Linked DNA regions of Homo sapiens. The protein of the gene in region 1 interacts with the protein of each later gene in a pairwise test. Each region holds a gene or a part of one and is shown in the gene's direction. Other genes may lie near its edges. The genes, in order: GOPC, HCK, GEM and MYLK.

Region 1 (7,038 bases):
CATGATCAGTATTTTAAAACTGGAAGAGGCTTGTGATTCATTTATCTGCTGAGTAGGAAAACAGCTTAGTAGAGACAGAAAGAGTAAGGGTACCAGAGAAAAGATTATTAGTGGATCAAGGCCCTTTATTTAAGAGGTAGACTCCAGAGCACCAAGGAATGTATAAGTAATTAATGGTCCAATTGGAAATTTGTTTTTCAACTCTACAACTCAGCTAAAATGAATGTATATCTTAAAGATATCCAGTGAAGATAGACACTTTTATTTTTTGAGGATATTTGTTCCTCAATTAATTCCTGGAAATCATTTCTTTTATAATGCCCTACAATTTAAAAAGAGATGTATCAATATTTTAAACATTATTGGCAAAAGGGTGAGAATATCATCTATAAATTTTGCATCAACAGAATAGCTATTTTCATTTTTCCATTTTATCTGTTACTTTCTTAACCCTATACTGTTTATCCATTCCAGGAAGTTAATACAGATTTCTAAAAGCAAGTTATATAGTATGAGTTTACTCTATTTGGTATGCTATTTAAATGATACTACTTTTTCTTCTTTTTTCCTCCCAATAAGGATCAAGATTCCCTAAAGAAAAGCCAAGGTGTTGGTCCAATTAGAAAAGTTCTCCTCCTTAAGGAAGATCATGAAGGCCTTGGCATTTCAATTACAGTAAGAAGTAGTACTTCCAGTATCATTTTCTACAGTTATCTAGTATAATCATGCTCCTTTGTTGGACATCACTGGGGAACAGAATATTCTGGATATATTTTTTAAATAACTAAAATTTATCCCCATGGGGATAAATGTTTGCTTTTGTGTAAATATTTTTTTAAGAAATAAATATTCCTAGCAACTATTAAGTGTACCTTTAGTAAGCATAGTTTAACATTTTTATTATGATTCACTTAATAGTTCTGTGCCATATACTGTGATGCCTCTAGGAGCCCTTGGGAATAGACGTGGCTGTTTTCTTCTATGTTAAATGGCTTCAGATTGTATTGTTCTCTCTCGGAGTACGTGTATCTTTCTCTTGCCTCATTTATTAGCTGTCAGATTTCACTGGCTCTTGGGTCCAAATGTTATATATTCTTTTTTTTAAATTCGATGCCTTTAGGAGTCATTTTGTTGTCATCTCAGTGCTTTAATGAATAAGGTGGCTTTAATTTTCATTTGGTAATACTTAGGCACTGAGCAAGATCATTTGTTTTTTTAGTATTGCTTAATGTAGAAATGTTTCTTATAATAAAAAGCTCATCTAATCTATATTTCTTGAATACTTACCTTTTTTTTTTTTATGTGCTGCCTTCAAAGAGCATACATTTTAGCAGGACAAATAAGACACACACACACACCCCTACACACACGCAACAATGATATAAGCTAGAGAGTGATAGGTACCAAATACTGCATTTTTTCAATTCTACATTGCATATATTTTCATATTTTAACTTCTCTGAAATTGAAATTTATCTTATAATCTTAAAATTATTTTTGTGGCACCTAAAATAATTGGTCTTGTCATTCGTAGTGATTTAGACTTGATAAAATGTAATGGTGCTATGGAGTACTAACACATAAGTTTTTTTTAATTTAAGAATTTAGCCAATTTCTGTTCAATACTCTGATAATTTTTACCATTACTTAAGTAGCAAATAAAATTTTACCCAGCATTTATAGAGACAGCATAGGTGTTTAATGAAATATATTTTTAAGAAAATATTTTATCTCTAGATTAATCGGTAACTGTACCTTACAAAGAGTACTTTAATTTACTGCCCTTTGTTGTTGTTAGGGTGGGAAAGAACATGGTGTTCCAATCCTCATCTCTGAGATCCATCCGGGGCAACCTGCTGATAGATGCGGAGGGCTGCACGTTGGGGATGCTATTTTGGCAGTCAACGGAGTTAACCTAAGGGACACAAAGCATAAAGAAGCTGTAACTATTCTTTCTCAGCAGGTAAATTCCCTTCATGTAATTAGAACTGGATCTATCAATTGGTTATGAATCTATTGAACACTGTATACTTCCCTACGAAGTTTCTAAAGTAGTAAAGTGTTTACACATAGTTCTTGTTTCCTTTGATTTAATGCTTTTATAGCTGACATTCAGTCAGATTTACTGAAAATGGACCATTCCATTTTGTTTACTTCATAACTTTGAGCAAGTTACTTAAGTCCTCTGTCCCTCAGTGTCCTCACCTGTGTGGGAGGGATTGAAAGAAAGCTGTGAGGATTAAGTATGTTAATACATATAAAGTACTCAGAACAGGACCTGAGACTGAAAAAACAACATCCTTAATGCCTAGAACACTATATATAAGGTATTACAGAAAAGACAGTGCTAGAAGTAGATTGATTTTAGTCATGGAATATTAAAATTGAAATCACACATAGAAACTATCTAGCCCAACTCTCTTAAAATGAGTAAACTAAAGTTCTTAGCGATGAAAGGATTTACTCAAAGTTGCCAAGCAAATAAATTATAGAATTGAGATTCATACTCAGGAGTCATATTTGTCATACAGTTGTACTTAAAATGTTGTTTTATTTTATTTCTTTCAAGAATAGAGTTGAGGGAATTAGAGGCATTGGTAGTACATTGAGATGTTTCTTGGATTATCAGTGTGGTATGCCTCTGTAGAATTGCATCTCAGAGTTGAAAGTGAATATTGTTCATTGGTTCAATTCTATATGATGCATAAATCTTTGCAACATCACTACTTCAATAATTACATTACAGGGAAGACTTGCTGATATCAACCAGTCCATTCCATTGTAATACAGTACTGATTTTTAGAAAGCTTTTTCTCATATTAAGCCTGAAATCTGTGTCTCCATGACAGCTACTCACAGATCTAATTCTGTCATCTAAAACTTTGCTGAAGACCACTGCATCATCTGTCTCTTTCTGCAAAATGGTATTTTTAAAGCATTAGCTGACAAGAGAGATCTAAGAATGCTACGCTATTCTCTTAAGTTAGTGTTTTATCAATCCATCTTGACTGTCATCCAGTAGCAAAAGAGTGGGATAACTGGTGAAGGAGCTATCAATGGGCAGCCATAAGTTTTAAGGAAATGCTAACTAAGCACATATTAAAATTCTGAGGTATAACCTTAAACTGCTGGGAAAGAAGAGCACCAAAGAGACTAACTTAGTGAGTAGCAGTCAAAAATGCCGTGTTTTCTTTTGAGCAAAGGCAAGCCATAGTTTTCAGAATTGCCAACACCACACTTATATGTAGTGGTTGGAGTCTCTTATTAAATGACAATTATAGCTTGGAAATTTTTCTTTTAACATAAAACGATCTGTAACATTTTTTTCTTTTTTGGAGCCAGGATCTCACTTTGTCACCCAGGCTGGAGTGCAGTGGCACAATTACGGACCACTGCAGCCTCAACCTCCCAGGCTCAAACAGATCCTCCGACCTCAGCCCCCTGAGTAGCTAAGACTACAGATGCCTGCCACCATGGCCAGCTAATTTTTTTTTTTTTTTTTTTTTTTGTAGAGATGGGTTTTGCCATGTTGCCCAGGCTGGTCTAGAATTCCTGAGCTCAAGCGATCCACCTGCCTCAGCCTCCCAAAGTGCTGGGATTACAGGTGTAAGCCACTGTGCCTGGCATGATCTGTAACTTTTTACTTGAATGTTTCATTGTTAAAGAATGACAGTACAAATATTACACAGTTAGTCTAGCATAATATAAAGATTAAGGACTTCAGAGTCAAACTTTTGTTTTTCTTTATTCTTGTTCATTATGTAGGGAAAGTTATCTGCTTTCTGCAGGACTCACTCAGCTTTCTCGTTCATGTAAAAGAGACTATAATAGGATTATTCTGGGGATTGAAGGCTATAATTTATAGTAAATATATAAATATAGTAATTACTATTAGTACGAGACAGAATACCTTGATTAACACTATGTCTGTGTCTGGTACTCAGTGTAAGTTCTTACTCAAGACCTATTGAATAAGAAACAAAAAATCATTTTGTAGGAGTTTCTTGAATTAGTTAAGAAAAGATTTATATGATGTCCTTATGGCAGTGTACAAAAATCATTTTCTAGGGGTTTCTTGAATTAGTTAAGGAAAGGTTTGTATGATATCCTTATTTAATATCTGACTATTTAGATGTATTTGCTGAATTGCTGTGTGCAGTACAAAGTAGCAAATAACTTTAAAACTGAATACTTGTTCCAAAATTCTATAAATTTAATAATTAAGCATCCTCTTAAATTTTAGATCTATTAGCAAAAAGACTATGGTCAGTAGAAAGAGCTACTATAATGTTTAAAGGAACTGTAGAGAGGATTCACGAGGCTGATCAGACATGATGGCCTCACTACCTCTTTAGATTCTAGAATTTTATTATTTATTTTCTGGAAATCAGCTATCTCTTAGATCTCTCTACCCCTAAGCCTTCCCACAAAGAATTTGGAAATCCTTTTTAAATTACAATTACAATAACTTGACTTTCTCATTTTCATTTCCTGTTTTAGAGAGGAGAGATTGAATTTGAAGTAGTTTATGTGGCTCCTGAAGTGGATTCTGATGATGAAAACGTAGAGTATGAAGATGAGAGTGGACATCGTTACCGTTTGTACCTTGATGAGTTAGAAGGAGGTGGTAACCCTGGTGCTAGTTGCAAAGACACAAGTGGGGAAATCAAAGTATTACAAGGTAAAAATCACTCTAAAAATTATTATTAACATATTCATTATTATTAAATGTTTAAAATGTGAAGGCCTCAGAATTTCTTCAGTAAAACTGTTTTGTGAGGAAATCAAAGGAATGAAGAGCTTTCCCTTGTTTATTGTTTTATTGTATACTATGCTAACAGTTTATTTACCATATATGTTCTTCTATATTCATCTTGGACTGTTAAGACAAGTACATTACCAGTTACTCTACTGCAAGTGATCCTTGAAAAATAAATAAAATTTTTTCTAGACTCTGAAACAAAGACCAATATACTATTTTGAGTAGATCTATCTTGTAGACTACATTGTCTGTCTGTCTTGATGCAAATTCATCTCTCACAATGAATTTTAAGCTAATTATGAATAAGTATGAAGTATACTGTCACCTTATGATTGCTATTAGAATCAACTTATATTATCTTGGGGATGTTTGGTTTAGTTCCTTTGCTATCATTTAGACATATTTTAAGGAAAAACTCTAGCACTTCCTTTTACATAGAGCAGTGGTCCTCAAATTGTGATCTGTGGATCTCTGAGGGTCTCTGAGATATTTTAGCAGAGTTCATGAGGTCAAAGCTTTTCATAATAATACTAAGACATCATTTGTCTTTTTTTGCTATGTTGATATTTGCACTGATGGTATCTGGTTGATGCAAAAGCAATTGGGGTAAAACTGCTGGTGCCTTAGCACTAATCAAGGCAGTGTTGCTAATACTAGTAACTGTACTAGTAATCATTGTTTTCTTCCTTGCCATCCATTCATAGTAAAAGAAGAAGATACCAATTTTGCTTAAAAATATCTTTGATGAAATGGCAGTAACAGTTAATTTTTAAATATTGACCTTTGAGTACCTGTCTTTTTAATATTCTTTGTGATGAGATGGGAAGTATGCATAAAGCACTTACTCTGCACACTGAACAAAGATGCTGGTTTCAAGGGAAAGTACATAAGTGACTGAACTAGCCATTTTTCTTCATGGAAGACAATTTTTACTTGAATGAATGACTAACAAAGTATGGATTTTCGGACTATTTGGAAGCCATTTTCTTAAAAATGAACAAAGTCCATCACTTCAGGAAAGACAACTGATAATATTTATTGCCAGTGATAAAATGTGAGCTCTCAAGTGAAAGTTAGAACTTTGTAAAACATACGTTGATCACCATGAGCTTGACAGCTTCCTAACACTTAAGCTTTTCTGATGAGATTGATGATGATATTAATGAATGTGATTTTTTGATACAGTAAAGTGAAATGTGTCAACTTTTGGAATTGCTACATAACTTCATGGTCCAATATTTTTCAAATCACCAGTAAATGAAGTTATAAAATTTTGCATGGGAAAAGATCCATTCAAAATGCAAGATAGGCAAATGGATTTTAATATAACAGAGTGTGAAAAGTTCACTGATAAGGTTTCAAATTCCACATTGTCAAATTTTTGTATAATATCAGAGAACAATACTGACAGTTATCTGAAAAGGCTGTTAAAATACTCTTCCATTTAGCAACTACATATCTGTGTGAGGCTGAACTTTCTTCATATACTTGTAATAGATTGAATGGAAGCAGATATATGAAAATACAGCTATCATCTACAAAGCCATTGAAGAGATTTGTAAAATTGTAAAATAATGCTACTCTTCTAACTAGAATTTTTTTGTTTGGAACATAGAGTTATTTGTCATTAGACAAATGTTATTTATATTAACCTTCTGGATTTATTGTCATTTTTAACAAAGAAATGAATTTTTTTTTAGATTTTTCAATTTTACCTACTAATATGGGAAACATCAGTAGCTATAATCCACATAAACAGAAGCTTCTTGGAGTCCTCAATGCTTAGTATAAAGGCCTCCTGAGACCAAAATGTTGAACTCCTGGCATGGAGTTTTATGGTGAACTGATAAACTGTTGCACTTTTGATAAACTTGTGTGTTGTAAACTGTCTGCACAAAGATAGCAGTAGCAGTTACTGTTTTCACTGTGCATCTTGAGCAAAACTATTGTGGCAGTATGTCAAAACCTTAATTGTTGGGCTGCTCTCCATATGGTTTCATTGTATTTCACACTTGCTGTTTTCTGTCGGGATTAGAAAGCCTGTCTCTTCCTTTTTTTTGTAACTGAGGCTAGAAGTCTTCTCTGTCACATATGCAAATTGCAGACACTTAAAATGTGACTCAACTAAAAATTTGTGTGTATATATCTTTTAACTGACTCACTTAAAAAAATGTATCTATTGGTTATTGTTTCACACGTCTATACTTTATAGATATATATATCACCTAAATAGGTGATATAGTCAACACTTATTTATTTATAAGCCTATTATTTAT
Region 2 (7,038 bases), on another chromosome or scaffold:
ACCCTTTCTCAGAGATGGCCTTGGATTGTGAATGAACACAGGTCTTCTGAGACCCCTCCCTCGGGACCCTGTGGCCATCTTGAATATGTACATTGATCACGTAAGTGAAGCATACAAGGTGCTCAACGCGCATGGATTGGAAATCACAAGACTCACAGCTGCAGATCAGTGGGTGCCCAGAGAGGTAGAGTGAGCTGCCCTACCTCACACAGTGCTGCTCTTCCCAGAACATCTTTATGCTGACCAAAACACACGAAATGTGATATAATTTTATGTCATATATGTCACACAAGATGCCCGTTTAATTTCCCAGAACTGTAATACACATTTATCTCAAAGAGAGATGCTGGTTTCAGTTTTAAATGCATGCAAGTACATTATAAATCTGTGCTTAATTATGATAATTTTTCAAATTAATGATCCAGCACTCCAAGAGTCTGAATGTGTTCCTTATTTTATTTCCAAAAGACAAACAAAGCAAAACCGCTCAAGTCTTGAGGTGGCAAATCTTTCCCAGTTCCCACCAGAAGAGGTAAATCCTTGTAAATAAAAGGAATCTTTTTTCATTTTTAAAAGTAACTCATCTAAGCCTAGGAGTTTGGGGTTTTTTTCCTTAAACCACAAATACATGTTTATTTTAACAAGATAAGTATAACTGAGTTCTAACTGCTTTAGAAGAAAATGGCAATTGTGCAGAGATGAGAAAAGCAAGCACTTCCTTATGTGGTTGTCACAGCCTGCCTTCTCAGCAAATGTGTGTGCACATTTTGAGAAAAGAAATGAAACATTTCTTCCACTTTTACAATTATGTTTTGACTCTACTTGGAGTAAATGTGTTTTGTTTAAGCATCCTTAAATTAATTCAATACAGCAGCAAAGTCTGCAAGCTCTACCTCCAAAATGTCCCCCAAACCTGTCCAATGCTTACCTCCTCTCTGCCCCCACACTACCCTGGGCCACCATCATCTCATACCTGAACAATTTTGGCAGATTTCTCACAGGGTTCCCTCCCCTGCTCCCCACTGTCCACGCCTCACTCAGCCACCGGTGGGATTATTTAAAGTGCAAATTGAATCCCATCATTCTCCTGCCAGAAACTTTCCATCATCCTTAGAATAAAATCCAAAGTCCTTACTGGCCCTACAGGATATGGTGGCCTTGTCACAACCACCCTCTTCCCTGCCCATGAGCTTCAGCTACACTCTCCTGCTTTCAGTGCCTCCAACTTCTCTCTAAGCACATGCCAGCCTCAGGGCCTTTGCATTTGCTGTTCCCTCTGCCTGGAACACTCTTCCCTCAGAGTGTCCCCTCACTGGCTCCTTTGTGTCATTTAGACCGCAGGTTCTGTATCCCTTTCTCTGACAGGCCTTCCCCAAATGCCCTGCCTAAAAGAGCCAGACCTGTTGTTCCCCACAGCATCCTCTCTTATTGTCCTCACACTTTTCATTAACTCAATTTGCCCTGTTATTTATTTGTTGGCCTGTTTATTGTCTCTGTCTCCCATTCGGCTGCAGTTGAGGTCCTGAGGGCGTGAACTTGCTTCTCTTCTTCACAGTTTAGAAAAGTGCCCAGTAAATCTTGGCTGTGTAAATGGATGAATGAATTACCAAACAACTCAGAGAGAGACAGAGAGAAAGAGAGGAGGAAGAGGAAGAGGAAGAAGACGAAGAAAGAGGAGGAGGAGGGAGGACAGAGGAGGGGGAAGGAGGAGGAGGGGAAGGAGGAGGAGGGGGAAGGAAGAGGAGGGGGAGCAGGAAGGAAGGGAGGGAGGGAGGGAGGGAAGGAGTTATAAGCAATTTATAAATTGATACCAGTAATACGGTGCCTTGACAAACTAGATTGTTTGAGCCATGTTATGTGACCTCATCTTGTTATTTAATATAAAAATGGCAATTTATCATCTGATAATACTGCAGTTTTTCTGTAGTGTTTGCTCTGAGCCTGACACTGCACTGAGTATTTCCCCACTGTAGGTCATATTATTGTCCCCATTTTGCCGATGAAGACCTGAGAGGTGGGTAGGGGCAGGAAAGTGGTCAGTGAGGTGCTGGTGGGGTGGAGGGGCCAAGGATCAGCTGAGGCTTTCTGACCTGAGAGCTGGCAGTGCCCACCCAACAGCTCTACCTGTTACATTTCTGTTATCCTCATGCCATCCTCTGAATAAACATCCATCACGCTGGTCCTTGGTACCCACGACAATGACAGCTTGTCAGCCCTGGGCCAGTGCTGTGGCACGTGGACATGGGGAAGCCCAGAGGTGGCAAGGATGGAGTGGGTTCCATGTGGGGAGGATAAGGGTGCATGGAGCTGGCAGGGGAGTTAAGACCGGGAAGGCCAGTGGGAGCCAGCCCGGGGGCAGGGGACCTGGAATGCCAGCATCAGAAGACTTCCCCGCATGAGGCTCTTGGTAACTGGGGCTCACCTCCCTTCTGTCTGCTGCAGGATGGGGTGCATGAAGTCCAAGTTCCTCCAGGTCGGAGGCAATACATTCTCAAAAACTGAAACCAGCGCCAGCCCACACTGTCCTGTGTACGTGCCGGATCCCACATCCACCATCAAGCCGGTGAGTAGGGGAGGTCCCAGTTTCCCTGGGGGCTGACGGATGCTGCCCCAACATTGCCCTAACAGCCTCCTGTCTTCCCAAGGTTGGGCAGGGTGAGCTTGGGGTGAAAGGGAGCTGACTGGCCACCAACAGTGTCCTGACTCGACTCTCCGGGACGCAGCGCCAGCCAGCATGCATAGGGGCAAAGAAGTCATCTCTCTTTCCTGCAGCCCAGGCTTGGCCCCTCAGCCTGAGCTCCACCAAACAGGTGTGAGTGAGCATCTCAGGCCTCCGGCCTGGGCAGAAGCAAAAGCAGTGCTGAGAAACGAGTGAACAGTAATGATAGCAGCTGAAGTGACAATGTAATGGTAGTATCAGCAGCATTGCAAAAATACAGTAACAATTGTCATACTAATAGTACCAACCATAATTGCGTGAGTATAAGACCAAGAGTAGCAGCAGGAACAACAGCAAGAGTTGTAAAAAGAGAAGCAGTCATGCTAGGAGAGGTATTTACCAACTTCTTTTATGTTTATACAAAGCTGACTATGAACCCAGCACTGTTGTAAGCCTTTACGGTTATTAACACCCTAATCCTCACAATAATCCTATTGTGTGACACACAAATACATTCTTCTTGAAAATAAAAACACAGGCCAGGTGCAGTGGCTCACACTTGTACTCCCAGCATTTTGGGAGGCTGAGGCAGGAGGATTACTTGAGCCCAGGAGTTCGAACTGCATGAGCTATGATCACGCCACTGCACTCCAGCCTGGGCAATACAGGGAGACCCTGTCTCTTTAAAAAAAAAAAAAAAAAAAAAAAAAAAGAGCTGCTTAGAATGCCATAGTTTAGGTGTCACTTCCCCCTTGCATGGACACTTAGATTGTTTCACATACATAACAGAGCCTTTATTTATGGAATATAAATCACTGGTGGGCCTGTGATTTCTCCAAACTTAGTCGGAAAACACTGATCTGGACCGACCCCTTCACTGTGTGTTGAGGGGAGGGGTCAAGCAGCATCCCCCGGTACATCCAAGACCGAAGGCCGAGGTCACAGCTCAAGAAACCTGGATCCTGGCTGGGCACAGTGGCTCACTCCTGTAATCCCAGCACTTTGGGAGGTCAGGAGTTCTAGACCAGCCGGGCCAACATGGTGAAACCCCATCTCTACTAAAAATACAAAATTAGCCAGGCATGGTGGCATGCGCCTGTAATCCCAGCTACTTGGGAGGCTGAGGCAGGAGAATCACTTGAACCCGAGAGGTGGAGGTTTCGGTGAGCTGAGATCACGCCACTGCACTCCAGCCTGGGTGACAGAGTGAGATTCCATCTCAAACAACAGCAACAACAAAAAATCTGGACCATTTTGTTTGCTGGCTCTGCCCCTAATGTGCCGTGTGGTGCCAGGCATGTCCCCTGCCGTATGTGGGCCTCCTCCCACGACATGCAGGGCTAGGGTAAGATGCTCTTGGGTGTCCTTCTCAACACAGACCTTCCACGGGTCCCCACACATTGGTCAGATTCATTCTCTTCTCTCATTTCTTCCCCACAGGGGCCTAATAGCCACAACAGCAACACACCAGGAATCAGGGAGGGTAAGTATCTACGAGCAGATGCAGTGGAGTCATGTGTCCTGCAGAGGACTCCGCTAGGTTCTCCCTTAGCTTGAGGCATAAATCCCAAACAGTCAAACCCCTGTCGAGAATCCCCAAAATTTCCTCTGAAGTGCTTTGCGCAGGCTATTGTGTTTCTAGAACGCTGTTTAGTAACATGAACAAAACATATTTAGCTTTAAACTTGAGAATCACACCCAGCATGGTGAGACGCCTACTTATACTTGGAACCACATATCGATGGGTGCGGAGCTGTTCCAGGTGCCGGGTGAGGGTCACCAAGGGCTGTGGATGCACTTAGACGAAACCTCACCCTCTGTGTGTCTCCCTTCCCAGCAGGCTCTGAGGACATCATCGTGGTTGCCCTGTATGATTACGAGGCCATTCACCACGAAGACCTCAGCTTCCAGAAGGGGGACCAGATGGTGGTCCTAGAGGAGTGAGTCCCCATCCCACTCCCCCTAAGACAGACCTGCCTCCTCTACTCAACTATGTGCTCTTTTGTGCTTCCATAAAGAACCTGATAGATGGGCTATCTTATCCTGGGTATAAATGTCTAATGAGAAGCTAATCACAATAGTGGAGGAAGGGTTTGCTGTCAACCTGGATGAAGGGGATTGTGCACTTACTGAGAGTGCACGTCCAGCCTGAGATGAACAGGTGACGCTTTCTCAGGGAAGCCTTTCTAGGGCTCCTGCGATTAAGCCACCGGCTTTACCTGTGGACCAGGCCCCATCGAGTCGACCTTGCATTTGGAAATCCTTGGATCTCTGAGTTTGCCACCTCGGATCTCCTACAGCCTTCACCATCATGGGTATAGTGTCCAGGATGTGCTGAAGCCCGAGAACGGGAGTGGTCATGCCTGGTCGGACTCCCAAGCCCACTCTCCCCTATTCTCAGCCCCAGCTGAACCATTCTGAGTCTCTATAGGCACAGGACCCTGCCATGGGTATAGCTAATAAGACCAAAGCTGCAAGTCCAGGGAAAAGGAGTGGAGCCAGAGACCCAGGGCTCTGGGCTGTGGACAGGGAGATTCCAGACCCTCAGATGCACAGCAGGAACTGTTGTAAGGATCCCTACCCTAATCATGGCCACATGCTGGGGCTGACATAGTCACAGCCCTGTCCTTCACCCTACTGGCTTTCTGGAGGCAGGGAGTTTTCTAGGTCAAGGCTGGGGAGCTTGAGGAGACTGGAGAATGATCCTTCTGTCCCTAACACCTTTACTCCCTCATGTCCCTCAGATCCGGGGAGTGGTGGAAGGCTCGATCCCTGGCCACCCGGAAGGAGGGCTACATCCCAAGCAACTATGTCGCCCGCGTTGACTCTCTGGAGACAGAGGAGTAAGTATCCTATTTCCTACCTTCCAGAAAGAGGCATGAGCAAAGCCAGCCTTGTTTGCAACTCAGGACGTCTGCACACACTGTACCACTGCCTGGCACATACTCTTCCCAGGGCTCTGGGCTTGGCTGGCTCCTTCTCTTCCTTCAGGTTTCATCCTTCCAGTCAGGGAAGAGAGGCTAAAGTGGGTCCCAGCTGTGACTCTGTCTTGTGGAAACCTGTTTTAATCCCTTCTGAACATGTTTTACTAGCAAAACGACCTGGTTTCTTTGGTTGGTTACACGTGCATTCTCTGCCTGCCCTGCAAGGAAGAGAGCTGGTGAGAGCGGGGACTTTGTCTGCTTCTGCATCCTCGGCACAGGCTGGCATGCAGTCAGTGCTCAATAAATATTGTTGAATGAAGCACACGGTCTTGCCAAGGAGGGTTTCTGGAGAGGTGAGACAGCTCACACCTGGCCAGTCGTCCCTCATTTGTTGTTTTGTTTTGTTTTGAGACAGGGTCTCACTCTGTTGCCCAGGCTGGAATGCAGTAGCACCATCACAGCTCACTTCAGCCTCAGCCTCCCTGGGCTCAGTTGATCCTCCCACCTCAGCCTCCCAAGTAGCTGGGACTACAAGTGCGCATCACCATGCCCAGCTAATTTTTTTCTTTTTTGTATTTTTGGTAGAGAGGGGGTCTCTCTGTGTTGCCCAGGCTGGTCTCAAACTCCTGGGCTCAAGTGATCTTCTCGCCTCAGCCTCCCAAAATGCTGGGATTATAGGCCTGAACCACTGCACCTGGCCCATCCCTCATTTGATTCATTCGACAAGCACATGCTCATGACTCTTCAAGCCCTGTGCCAGCCTAAGGGGCTGTGGAAACAAATAAGATATATCCCTACCCTCAAGGAGCTCTCCATAACCCATCGTTCTTGGCTGTGGGTTCTTCTTGTGTCTAGCTTGACTCTAAAAATATACTTCAGTCATCCATCCATCCATCCATCCATTCATCCATCCATCCATCCATCCATCCATCCATCCATCATCCAACAGATACCTGTTGATTCCCTATTCCAGGGTTAGAAGATGACTTAGATGGGGCTCCCTGCTGGAGATGTTCTCTGTATGGTGGATGAGGTTGATGAGTAAAAAGATGACTACATTGTGGGGTGGCAATACATCCCATTAAAAACCAGCCAATCAAAAGTTGACAAATGACAGTCCCCATTGTTTTGTCTCTTCTGCCTCCTCTTTCTAGCTAGATGGTATTATGGGTTTGGGATGCTTGCCTGTTAAAAATGAAAACGCTTAGGCTTTTCCCATTATAAAGCCACCTCCTTCTGGCTGGGCATGGTGGCTCACACCTGTAATCCCAGCACTTCGGGAGGCCAAGGCACGCAGATCACCTGAGGTCAGGAGTTCGAGACCAGCCTGACCAACAAGGTGTAACCCCATCTCTACTAAAAATACAAAAAAAATTAGCTGGGTGTGGTGGTGCGTGCCTGTAGTCCCAGCTACTCGGGAGGCTGAGGCAGGAGAATCACTTGACTCCAGGGGGC
Region 3 (3,605 bases), on another chromosome or scaffold:
CTTTTTCCTATTTTTCCTATCAGCAAGTGTACTTTAGGATACACATATTGTTTCTTTGCAAACTGATGCTTTATTCCCCAGGCCTAACTGAACTCACAGAAGATCTTATTGTTTCATTAGGGGGAAAATGAATGGCTCCATGACCACTGCATGCAGGTCGGGGACGCATACCTGATTGTCTACTCAATCACAGACCGAGCGAGCTTCGAGAAGGCATCTGAGCTGCGAATCCAGCTCCGCAGGGCCCGGCAGACAGAGGACATTCCCATAATTTTGGTTGGCAACAAAAGTGACTTAGTGCGGTGCCGAGAAGTGTCTGTATCAGGTAAGAGGAGCAGAGCCAATACTGTAGAAACAATCGCTGGATCACATGTGTTTTCCTTCAGACACGGGTTCTTCCCTCCTTCCACGAGGCTGGATCTAGGAACTCATTAAGATGCTATATGAAATTTTAGGTGTGTTTCTCAGACTCCTACAGTCCCAGTGGGTCTCCTCCACACTAGTTGTTCTCCCTTGTCCATCTGGTCTACCTGCAGGATACTAATCCTCCCGCTTTTAAGGAGTTTCCTGGAATTCCCAAGAGTACAGGGAAATGAAAGTAGCATCTTCATGCAAGGAGGATAGGGAACTCTGATTTAGGGGAACTGTGAGAAAGAGTTTCATTGAGGAAAAAGAATTCTACTCTGGCTGACTCTGGTTCCTGTGAGCCCTAGAAACACTGTCCTACTCTCCTACTCCCCATCCCTGGCTTCTGAAATTTCATTTGAGGCATCAGTCTGATGGGGTCACATATTCTTCTTCATACTTAGCTCAGGGAAAATCTCTATCTGCTGAGTGGGCAGCCAAGTGCTTTTATAGCCCTTGAGATTTTACTGGCCTAATTCAGATTTGATCCTGGTACAATTATAAAACTAAAATACTACATTGCCGGGCCCTGCTCAGGAGGAAAGACACCTGATAAAGACAATGTACACACTAGTTTGGGAATGTCTTCCTACTAGGACACAACTGTCTACAGTAATCATTTTTTTTCCAAACCAAAACTTGATGCATGGTCATTGAATGCAATGAAATACTTGAAATTGAGACTGTCCCAGAAAAGCTTGTATAATTTAACTGTATTACACATTTGTAAAATTCTCAATTTTTTCCCAAGATATCTCATTATTGCTTTATTTTTATTTTTATTTTAAAAGAGAGGAAAGCTAAGCAGTAGAATTCTTATTTCCAATTCTGGAAACTGGGTCAGGAGAAAGAGTTGAGTATGGGCTTGAGAACTGAGCAGACCTGGCTTCACTGCCACTTACAGGCTGTGTGAACTTCACCTGCAGAGGAGACTCCCCTCGGTTTCTTCATGTATTTGACAGGGATAATAATGTATTTTCCAAGATTGTTGTGGACATTGAAAACAGTGTTTATAAAGAACTTAGCCTTGTTCTTGGCACATTGTAAGTCAGCAGTAAATTAAGGGTATGGCTTTTACTGTTATAACTAATATCACTATATTTGATGAAATGGGACCTTCAGACAGTGAATTTATGGGGGATCAGATCTAAAGCCCATCTCCCTTACTTCCAGGGACCCTCCAGTGAGACATTTTCTATTCATGCCCTGGGAGGGCCCATGCCGCAGCAGCATCCTCTATCCACTGCATATACAGCTGACTTAGTGTTACCTCGAAGAACCATCCAGCTTGACTGTGTGCTATGTGGGACTGTGCTCTGCAGTCCCTCTGACCTCTTTCTTTCCTTCCCAGAAGGGAGAGCCTGTGCAGTGGTGTTTGACTGCAAGTTCATCGAGACCTCTGCAGCTGTCCAGCACAACGTGAAGGAGCTGTTTGAGGGCATTGTGCGACAGGTGCGCCTTCGGCGGGACAGCAAGGAGAAGAATGAACGGCGGCTGGCCTACCAGAAAAGGAAGGAGAGCATGCCCAGGAAAGCCAGGCGCTTCTGGGGCAAGATCGTGGCCAAAAACAACAAGAATATGGCCTTCAAGCTCAAGTCCAAATCCTGCCATGACCTCTCTGTACTCTAGGAACCCAGGGTCACCCAGATGTCCCTTTGATGGCCGTTGTTGAAGGCCATTGGGACCAATAATCTATATTAGATTGAATACTTAAGTTAGATGTGGTTTCCCCCATTGTAGCAGGGAGCTAGCGTATTAGCCTTGTGGGCAACATGATGCATGGGAAATGAAAGATTTTTGTAAAAAGTCAGTATTTATTTCCAGGAAAAGCCTGACCTTGCTATTTGAACACCCAAGACTCTTTAGAGGATGTGTTTGGTGTTCACATGTGTTTCTTCTATTTTGGATAGTAGAGAAGTAAAGCTTACAAAGAATGCCTAGAACAAGAACTTTTCATCATTAAAAATTTTTCCCAGTGTTCTGATATGTGACTTTGAGGCCAATGAGTCATAAACAAATATAAGAAAGCTGTCAATGAGTTTCTTCAAAGGAGGGAAAACTTTCTACGAATCTAAGATCCATGGAGCTAGAATTGTAGAACTAGGCTCATCAGAATCGTGACTATTATTGCTCCATCAAACTGTGAAAAGAAATGATGTGGACCTTGCTGGAAACAAAGGCTTAGCAAACAATTTTTGTTCAATGCCCACCAAGACATATAGAATTGGGAACTGATACATGTGTCCCTTATAGGCTCAAAAATTATATCTTACAATTTCTTATTTAGGGGGAAATTATTTGAATCAGATTCTATTTAGTCAAACCACCTTTTATGTTTTATTATTTTTGAATTCATGGAGCCATCATAAAAATATTTTTAAAATCAGAATTATTGATACCCTGTAGTGCAAAATGTCAATTTTTAATGTATAATCAGAAGTCTGAATTTTTATAAAACATATAGCATAAAAACTTCCAGTACTTTGGTTGACCCTTGTATGTCACAGCTCTGCTCTATTTATTATTATTTTGCAAAATAACCATTTTAACATTTGATAAAGCATATTTATGAACATATTTCTTAATAAGAAAAATATCCATTTTATTACCATTTTCTATCTTTTTCAAAATATGCAAGTTTTTACCTATATGTCTTATAATAAAAGAAATAAAATATTTGAAAAAAGGCATTCTTGATTGATTTTCCTCCCCAAACAAGATGATTAGGATTATTTTTATACAGCCTTTAGAGCAAGCACATTCCAAAGAGACATATGCCTATTGTTTTCTTTCTTTTTCTCACTAGCAATAGCCCAGTCATTATCCGTTTTAAAGGATATCCCTGACATCTCTGCTTTGAAATCACGATTCACGGTAATGCAAAGTTGTTTTTGGCTGATACCGTTGGGAAGTATTTGGGGTCATCTCAATGCTGTTATAGGAAAAGCCAGATTGACCTTTTACTTTGGTCTGGCAAATGCCTGACTGAACAGATGGGCTTCACTTTGCTCCCTGGAGGCTGATGGTCTTAAGCTTGACTAAGGCATTAGAGGAAGTTATAAAGGATTAGGGGGAAATAAAATAAAGGAATCTAGTGATTTCCAGCCTGAGATCTAGCCAGGCAAAGCTTTCACCAAATTCTCCTCTCTGACATTAATATGGCTTGACATTAATCACTTGGCATCTATCCAGCGGCCGTA
Region 4 (7,038 bases), on another chromosome or scaffold:
ACTTGTGGGCTTTTGTGATCCCTGGAATCCGTGCTTGTGATGAGTAATATTTGTGAGTAACCAGATGATCATTCTATTCTCCCCTCTCCTCACCCACCCTACCCCCACCCTCACCACCACACAGGTCATTTGTGAGAGAAACAAAAGCCACCAATTCAGATGTCAGGAAAGAGGTGACCAATGTAATCTCAAAGGAGTCGAAGCTGGACAGTCTGGAGGCTGCAGCCAAAAGCAAGAACTGCTCCAGCCCCCAGAGAGGTGGCTCCCCACCCTGGGCTGCAAACAGCCAGCCTCAGCCCCCAAGGGAGTCCAAGCTGGAGTCATGCAAGGACTCGCCCAGAACGGCCCCGCAGACCCCGGTCCTTCAGAAGACTTCCAGCTCCATCACCCTGCAGGCCGCAAGAGTTCAGCCGGAACCAAGAGCACCAGGCCTGGGGGTCCTATCACCTTCTGGAGAAGAGAGGAAGAGGCCAGCTCCTCCCCGTCCAGCCACCTTCCCCACCAGGCAGCCTGGCCTGGGGAGCCAAGATGTTGTGAGCAAGGCTGCTAACAGGAGAATCCCCATGGAGGGCCAGAGGGATTCAGCATTCCCCAAATTTGAGAGCAAGCCCCAAAGCCAGGAGGTCAAGGAAAATCAAACTGTCAAGTTCAGATGTGAAGGTGAGTAGAGGTAATTAGGGTCACCGATTGCCAAAATGTAGCCCCTTGGTGGCCACTCCCTTCCTTCAGCACCCAGCTAGTCTGCATCACCTATATCCACTCATCTTCTTGGACTAGCTCCCCTAGAAAACCACCTTACAAGGGCCTTCCCCTTAGGAGTGACTCATTGTAGAAATGCCCTTTATTCTGGAGAGACCCCTAACAGTAGCCTGTTGTTTGCTCTTGGATAGAGTACTGGCCCTGGCCCTAGTTCTTACCACCCTAGAAGAAACACCCTCATTATCGCCAACATCGAAAAGCAAACCTCATGGTCTCCTCCGCCCTTTCTTCCCCTTGCCTGGCTTTGGCCAACCTGGAGACCTTGCCCATCACGCTGTATTCATCCTCCTCAAGGCCCCTGACTCTCTCAAGAGGTTTCGTCTTGTGGAGTGTGGTTGAGGGTGAGGAAGCAGACTCAGAGGTGGGAGGGCAGCTCCACACCAAACTGAGCCCTTTCCTCCAGCTCACACCTTCCCCACCTACCTCACAATCACAGGGTGCTCTCCAGGGCATAGGGAGCTCACGTTCTTTACCTGGCCCTGTAGTTTCCGGGATTCCAAAGCCTGAAGTGGCCTGGTTCCTGGAAGGCACCCCCGTGAGGAGACAGGAAGGCAGCATTGAGGTTTATGAAGATGCTGGCTCCCATTACCTCTGCCTGCTGAAAGCCCGGACCAGGGACAGTGGGACATACAGCTGCACTGCTTCCAACGCCCAAGGCCAGCTGTCCTGTAGCTGGACCCTCCAAGTGGAAAGTGAGTACACTTCTCCAGGTCACCCCGCATTCTCTGTGGGACAACCATTCATGGGGTGCTTCACCTTCTGCAGATGGTTCATCTCCTATAGCCCCCTGCCTTGGTGCACAGCCCGACAGAAATGTCACCCCCAATCACATGCCAAGGCCAAGTGTGTTGCTCTAGGCCAGTGATTCATAATCAGGAGTTCACATCAGAATCACCTCAAAATAAACATGCATGGCCCCACACCCAGCCCAACTGACAGCTACCTTTCCTAGGTCCCTCAGCTGTTTGAATAGTGCCGTGACTCACGTTTGTAACCACAGAGAACTGAGTGTTCATTAAATATACAGGTTTAGAGTAATGTGAGATGATGTGGGATCCCACATCTTTTATGTTTATTGTACTGTCTGTTTATAAAAGTAATGCATGTTCATTGTGGGGAATTTAAACAATATATAACCTTATGACTCAGAAATAAATTATATTTTAATGTTTTTTATACAAACTTACCATTGTGGTATTTGTATACTGCTTTCTATCCTAATTTGCTCATGTGATATTAACATCTTTTTATACAATTCTTGGAAAGCATGACTTTTAGTAGCCATATAATATTGCATGAAATGGCTGTATCTAATTTAGGTATGCTGTTATTTGTTGAATAATTAAATTGTTTCCATTTTTCACTATTATAACATACCTATGATAAATATTCTTGTACCTGTCTATCTCTATAAAATTTCCCCCTTACTCTAAATGCATATGTAAGCCCCAGGCCCATGCCATACCCTTGAGAAATGCATTAACAAATACCACAAGAGTAGAATCTGCAAATTGCAGGCTGCTGGAAACTGTGGAACAAATAACTTTCACCCATTTTTTTTCCACATACAAATTGCAAGCAAAAAAAAAAAAAAAAAGACAACCTATAGAAAACTTATATTAGAAGGTATATAGTAACATCAACAATTACAATAATTTTTGATAATCTTCTGCCAATCCTGACTGAGATAATCTTTAAAAAGTTTTTATGGGAACATCAAGAGAATTTGGACACTGATAAGATTTAATATAAAGGAATTCGTGGTGTTTTAAGATGTGATGGTGGTCTTGTTACTTTTTTTTTTATAAGTTCATCTGTTTGAGAGATATATCCTGAGTTATTTACTGGTGAAATGATATGGCTTTTTATATTTGACTTAGAAATAATTCATGTTTGGGGAGCACTGGCAGGGATATCAATGAAATAATATTGATATAAATGAAAGTTGAGAGATGGGTACATAGGAATTCACTACACTGCTTTGTCTACTTTTGTGTGTGTTTGAAAATTTTCAAAATGCACATTTCCAAAAGAAAAAAAGAGTTAGTGATGTATCCATATAGTAGAATGCCAGACAACATCCTGTAGACTGATGCTAAAACATGTTCAAGATGCACTAGGAAGGGAGAGGAGCAAAGTACAGGCTCATGTGTAAATGGAAGAAAAGATCTGTGTACACACATGCAAAAGATGCCTGTGTGTGCACAAATCATTTCTGGAAGAGCACAAAAGTCCCTCTAGGAAGGGGAAACTAGGGGTTCACAGGAAGGAATGGGGCATCTTACTTTTCACTGTATACTGTTGATTCACTGGGATTTTAACTGTTGTTTAACTGGGATTTTTACTATCCTCGTGAATTCCTTTACAAGAAATATTATCCATGCCATTTGCAGGTGGGAGTGCTGGTAGGCAGAGTTCACAGGTCTAGGAGATCAAGCCTCATCATCCAGGCCAGGTCTCTATCCCTGCGCAGGGGACAGAAATATGGTGTCAGGTCCACCACAGATTAATGGCGTATCCAGAGGGCCTAGATTCTCCTGTGGCTTCTTCTGCTGTGAATTCATCTAAGTCTCACAGAAGACTATTTTTAGCCTGTTCGCGTCATGGGGTAATACATCTCAGGTTGATTCCCTATCTTGTTGTGTTTTGTGTGACAGCTTTATTGAGATATAATTCACATAACATAAAAAGCACCCTTTTAAAGTACACAATTCAGTGGTTTTTAATATATTCACAGAGTTGTGTGGCCATCACCATCATCTGATTTCAGAACATTTTCACTACCCCTCCCAAAAAAATCCTACCCATTAGCTGTCACTCCCTGTTCTCCCATCCCCACAACCCCTGATAGCCACTAATATACTTTTTGTCTCTATGGGTTTTCCTCTTCTGAACATTTGATGTTAAATGGAATCATTCAATATGTGGCCTTTTGTGTCTGGCTTCTTTCTCTTAGCTTAATGTTTTCAGGGTTCATCTGTGTTGTAGCAGGTGTTAGTACTTCATTCATCCATGTGGCTGAATCATATTGCATTGTATGGGTATAGCATACAGTGTTTTGTTTATCCACGCATCACTTAAGGTCCATGTGGTTGTTTCTACTTTTTAGCTATGGTGAAAAGTGTTGCTATGCACATTTATGTATGAGTTGTTTTCAATACCTGTTTTCAATTTTGATGTTTAGACCACATATATTGTTGGGTCATAAGGTAATTCTGGATTTAACCCTCTGAGGAACTAACAAACTGTTTTTCACCATTTTACATTCTTCTAGCAATGTACAAGTGTTGCAGTTTTTCCACATTCTCACCAATACTTGTTATTTTCTTGCTTGCTTGCTTGGTTTCTTGCTTTTTTTAAAAAATGAGGTCTTGCTTTGCCAATGGGGCTAGAGTGCAGTGGCATGATAATAGCTCACTGTAACCTTGAACTCCTGGGCTCAAGCAATCCTCCTGCCTCGCCTCCTGAGTAGGTGGGACTAAAGGTGCTTGCCACCACACTCGGCTAATTTTTTTTATTATTTGTAGAGATGGAGGTCTCACTATGTTGCCCAGGCTGGTCTCAAACCCCTAGACTTGAGTGATCCTCCCACTTCAACCTCCCAAAGCACTGGGATTATAAGCATGAGCCACTGCACTCAGCCTGTTTTCTATTTTTTCATTATAGCCATTCACAATCATCTGACTATGATTTTTTTTTTTTTTTTGAAACAGGGTCTCACTCTGTTGCCCAGGCTGGAGTGCAGTGGCGTGATAATAGCTCATTGCTGCCTCAACATCCCAGCCTCAAGTGATCCTTCCCACCTCAGCCTCCTGGGTAGCTGGGACCACAGGCATATGCCACTATACCCAGCTAATTTTGTTTATTTTTGTAGATAAAAGGTCTTACTATGTTGCCCAGGCTGGACTTGAACTCCTTGCTCAAACAGTCCTCCCACTTTAGCCTCCTAAAGTGCTGGGTTTACAGGCATGAGCTGCCACACCCAGCCTGACTGCAATTTTGATTTGCATTTCTCTGATGACTAGTGATTTTGAGCATCATTTCATATACTTATTGGACATTTGTATATCTCCTTCAGAGAAATGCCTATTCAAATACTTTACCCATGTTTTAATTGCATCATTTACTTTTTTATTGTTGAGTTGCAAGAGTTCTTTATGTATTCTGGATACAAGTCATTTACCAGACATGATTTACAATAATCCTCTCCCATTCTGTAAAGGCTGGATTATTTGTCATGTGCGGCCACAGAAGTCCCTGCTTAGTTAGTTTAGTGATCACCTAATTGATTGGATGGAGAGTTCCTTAAATGCCTTGAACTAATACTTTTCCCAGCCTTTGCCAAGGGGCTCTGTGTGTGTGTTACGCCCATCTTCAGTGCTCCGGCCAGCAGTTTACAGCTCTGCTTTAGCCTTTACTTTCTGCTTGCACCAAAGCTCCAAGTCAGCCAGAGGTGAGACAGGAGGGCCTTCTTACATCTTTCCTGGGCAGGCTCACAGCCCTGCACAACCATTTGGGCTCCTCAGTTCTCAGGAATCTGTCAGAGCTTTTCAAAGTCCTGGACATCTCATTCCCCAGTTTTTCCTTTGAAGTTTTTTGGTCAGGCTCTTGTTAGCTCCGAATGATATTGCTGTCTCAAGTAGCTATAATGTTAAACAATTGCTACTGATTGATTTTAACAAACATCCTGGAGACAGGGCCATCCACACAGAGTAAACTTTGAGTCGGATTAAACAAAGACAACCCGGAAAATGGAGTCGTTGAAGGAGCTGCCAGACAGGGCAAATAGTGACCATTCTCTTACGCATGGGGTTTTTCAGGAGCTCTGAACCCATCCTGCCCCTTGCTAAGTGGCTGATTTTCACAAGTACCATAGGTACTGTCGGTTTTCAGAGTTACCCCAGAGCTGGGGCAAGGGGCACAAGAGTGAAAAAGCACATAGCTTGCTGTTCTTACCAAGATTCAGCTATGTTTTATTGTTGTTGTTGTTGTTGTTGTTGTTGTTTGTTGTTTGGGAGGGTGGAGGGGCAGGGTATTGTTGTTTGGGGTTTTTTGTTGTTGTTTATTGTTTTTACTTTTTAGAGACAGAGTCTCGCTCTGTCACCCAGACTGGAGTGCAATGGCGTGATCATAGCTTGCTACAGCCTCAAACTCTTGGGCTCAAGCAATCCTCCTGCCTCAGCCTACTAAGTGAGACTACAGGCACATGCCATCATGCCTGGCTAATATTTTAATTTTATTTTTTTTGGTAGAGACAAGAGTCTTGCTATGTTTCCCAGGCTGGTTTCAAACTTCTGGCTCAAGCAGTCCTTCTGCCTTGGCCTACCAAAGTGCTGAGATTAAAGACTTGAGCCACCACTCCTGGATGTTTGTTTGTTTTTATTGAATGCTCCTCAGAATGTTGCAAGCCTGTGGTTAATTTCTGGCATTCTGAAACCGTTGCTTTTGACTCTTTTTGCCAGTATTGTTGTTGCTTTTATGGAGGAGTAGATCTTCAGAGGTCTTTACTTTGCCATTCCACATCCTATCTTCTTGATGAAGACACTCGCTTTTCTAAAACTTCTCCAGTTCCTAAACATCCTAGCTAATTCTTGGCAGATGAGTTTACCATGAAGCAGGTCATCTGATGGGTGTTCTTTTAGCTCCTCCTACATACTTCTCTCTTTCTGTTTTCCTATACTACAGAATACCTGTCTGTTTCCCTTCCCAAGACTTCTCTTTCTGTCCCTTCCCATCTTCACAAGGATCTGATCTAACAATGATTTACTCTCTCACCACTTCTTCAATCTTTCCCCTTCCCTTATTGAGAGACCTCTTTTTTCTCCCTACAAGCATGCTGTAGTTGTCCCTATGCTGAAAAAGGAAAGAAAATCTTCCTTCCACTTGAGAGCCCCTGCAGCTCCTACTCTATCCCTCCACTCTCTTTCATCCCTAGACTATATTTGCCTCAAGTAGAGTCTCTATGCACAGCTTCTACTTGATAATAACAGCTAACACTCACTGAGGATGTGCTATGCTGGGTTTTGTGCTAAATGCTCTACCTGAATTGTTTCATTTAGTTATCCCAACAATCTTACAAGAAAATCATACCCATTTCCTAGATAAGAATACTGATCTTTAGTAAGGTTAAATGACTTGTCCAAGTTCACATGCCTTGTAAAAGAGAGCATATTTCTAACCCAAACTGACCTGGCATGAAAGCCTATATCCTTTTTTGATAACTCCCAAAGGCATTTCTCTAATGAGGGAGTTCAACACTGGCCAAGGGGAGGGATGGAG

The links.
Region 2: the proteins of GOPC (region 1) and HCK interact in binary tests that used the Homo sapiens proteins (3 or more experiments, as listed by UniProt).
Region 3: the proteins of GOPC (region 1) and GEM interact in binary tests that used the Homo sapiens proteins (3 or more experiments, as listed by UniProt).
Region 4: the proteins of GOPC (region 1) and MYLK interact in binary tests that used the Homo sapiens proteins (3 or more experiments, as listed by UniProt).

What each region holds. Positions count from the first base shown.
Region 1 is NC_000006.12:117,564,497-117,571,534, reverse strand, and holds part of GOPC (Golgi-associated PDZ and coiled-coil motif-containing protein), read left to right. Parts: intron 1-579; coding exon 580-675; intron 676-1,676; exon of another isoform or gene 1,677-1,798; coding exon 1,799-1,963; intron 1,964-4,500; coding exon 4,501-4,681; intron 4,682-7,038.
Region 2 is NC_000020.11:32,069,220-32,076,257, forward strand, and holds part of HCK (tyrosine-protein kinase HCK), read left to right. Parts: intron 1-468; exon of another isoform or gene 469-532; intron 533-2,442; coding exon 2,443-2,563; intron 2,564-4,099; coding exon 4,100-4,142; intron 4,143-4,496; coding exon 4,497-4,599; intron 4,600-5,403; coding exon 5,404-5,502; intron 5,503-7,038. UniProt on the Homo sapiens protein: Non-receptor tyrosine-protein kinase found in hematopoietic cells that transmits signals from cell surface receptors and plays an important role in the regulation of innate immune responses, including neutrophil, monocyte, macrophage and mast cell functions, phagocytosis, cell survival and proliferation, cell adhesion and migration.
Region 3 is NC_000008.11:94,248,739-94,252,343, reverse strand, and holds the end of GEM (GTP-binding protein GEM), read left to right. Parts: intron 1-120; coding exon 121-325; intron 326-1,578; coding exon of another isoform or gene 1,579-1,592; exon of another isoform or gene 1,593-1,756; coding exon 1,757-2,034; 3' UTR 2,035-3,091; downstream 3,092-3,605. UniProt on the Homo sapiens protein: Could be a regulatory protein, possibly participating in receptor-mediated signal transduction at the plasma membrane. Has guanine nucleotide-binding activity but undetectable intrinsic GTPase activity.
Region 4 is NC_000003.12:123,727,309-123,734,346, reverse strand, and holds part of MYLK (myosin light chain kinase, smooth muscle), read left to right. Parts: intron 1-124; coding exon 125-660; intron 661-1,244; coding exon 1,245-1,451; intron 1,452-7,038. UniProt on the Homo sapiens protein: Calcium/calmodulin-dependent myosin light chain kinase implicated in smooth muscle contraction via phosphorylation of myosin light chains (MLC). Also regulates actin-myosin interaction through a non-kinase activity.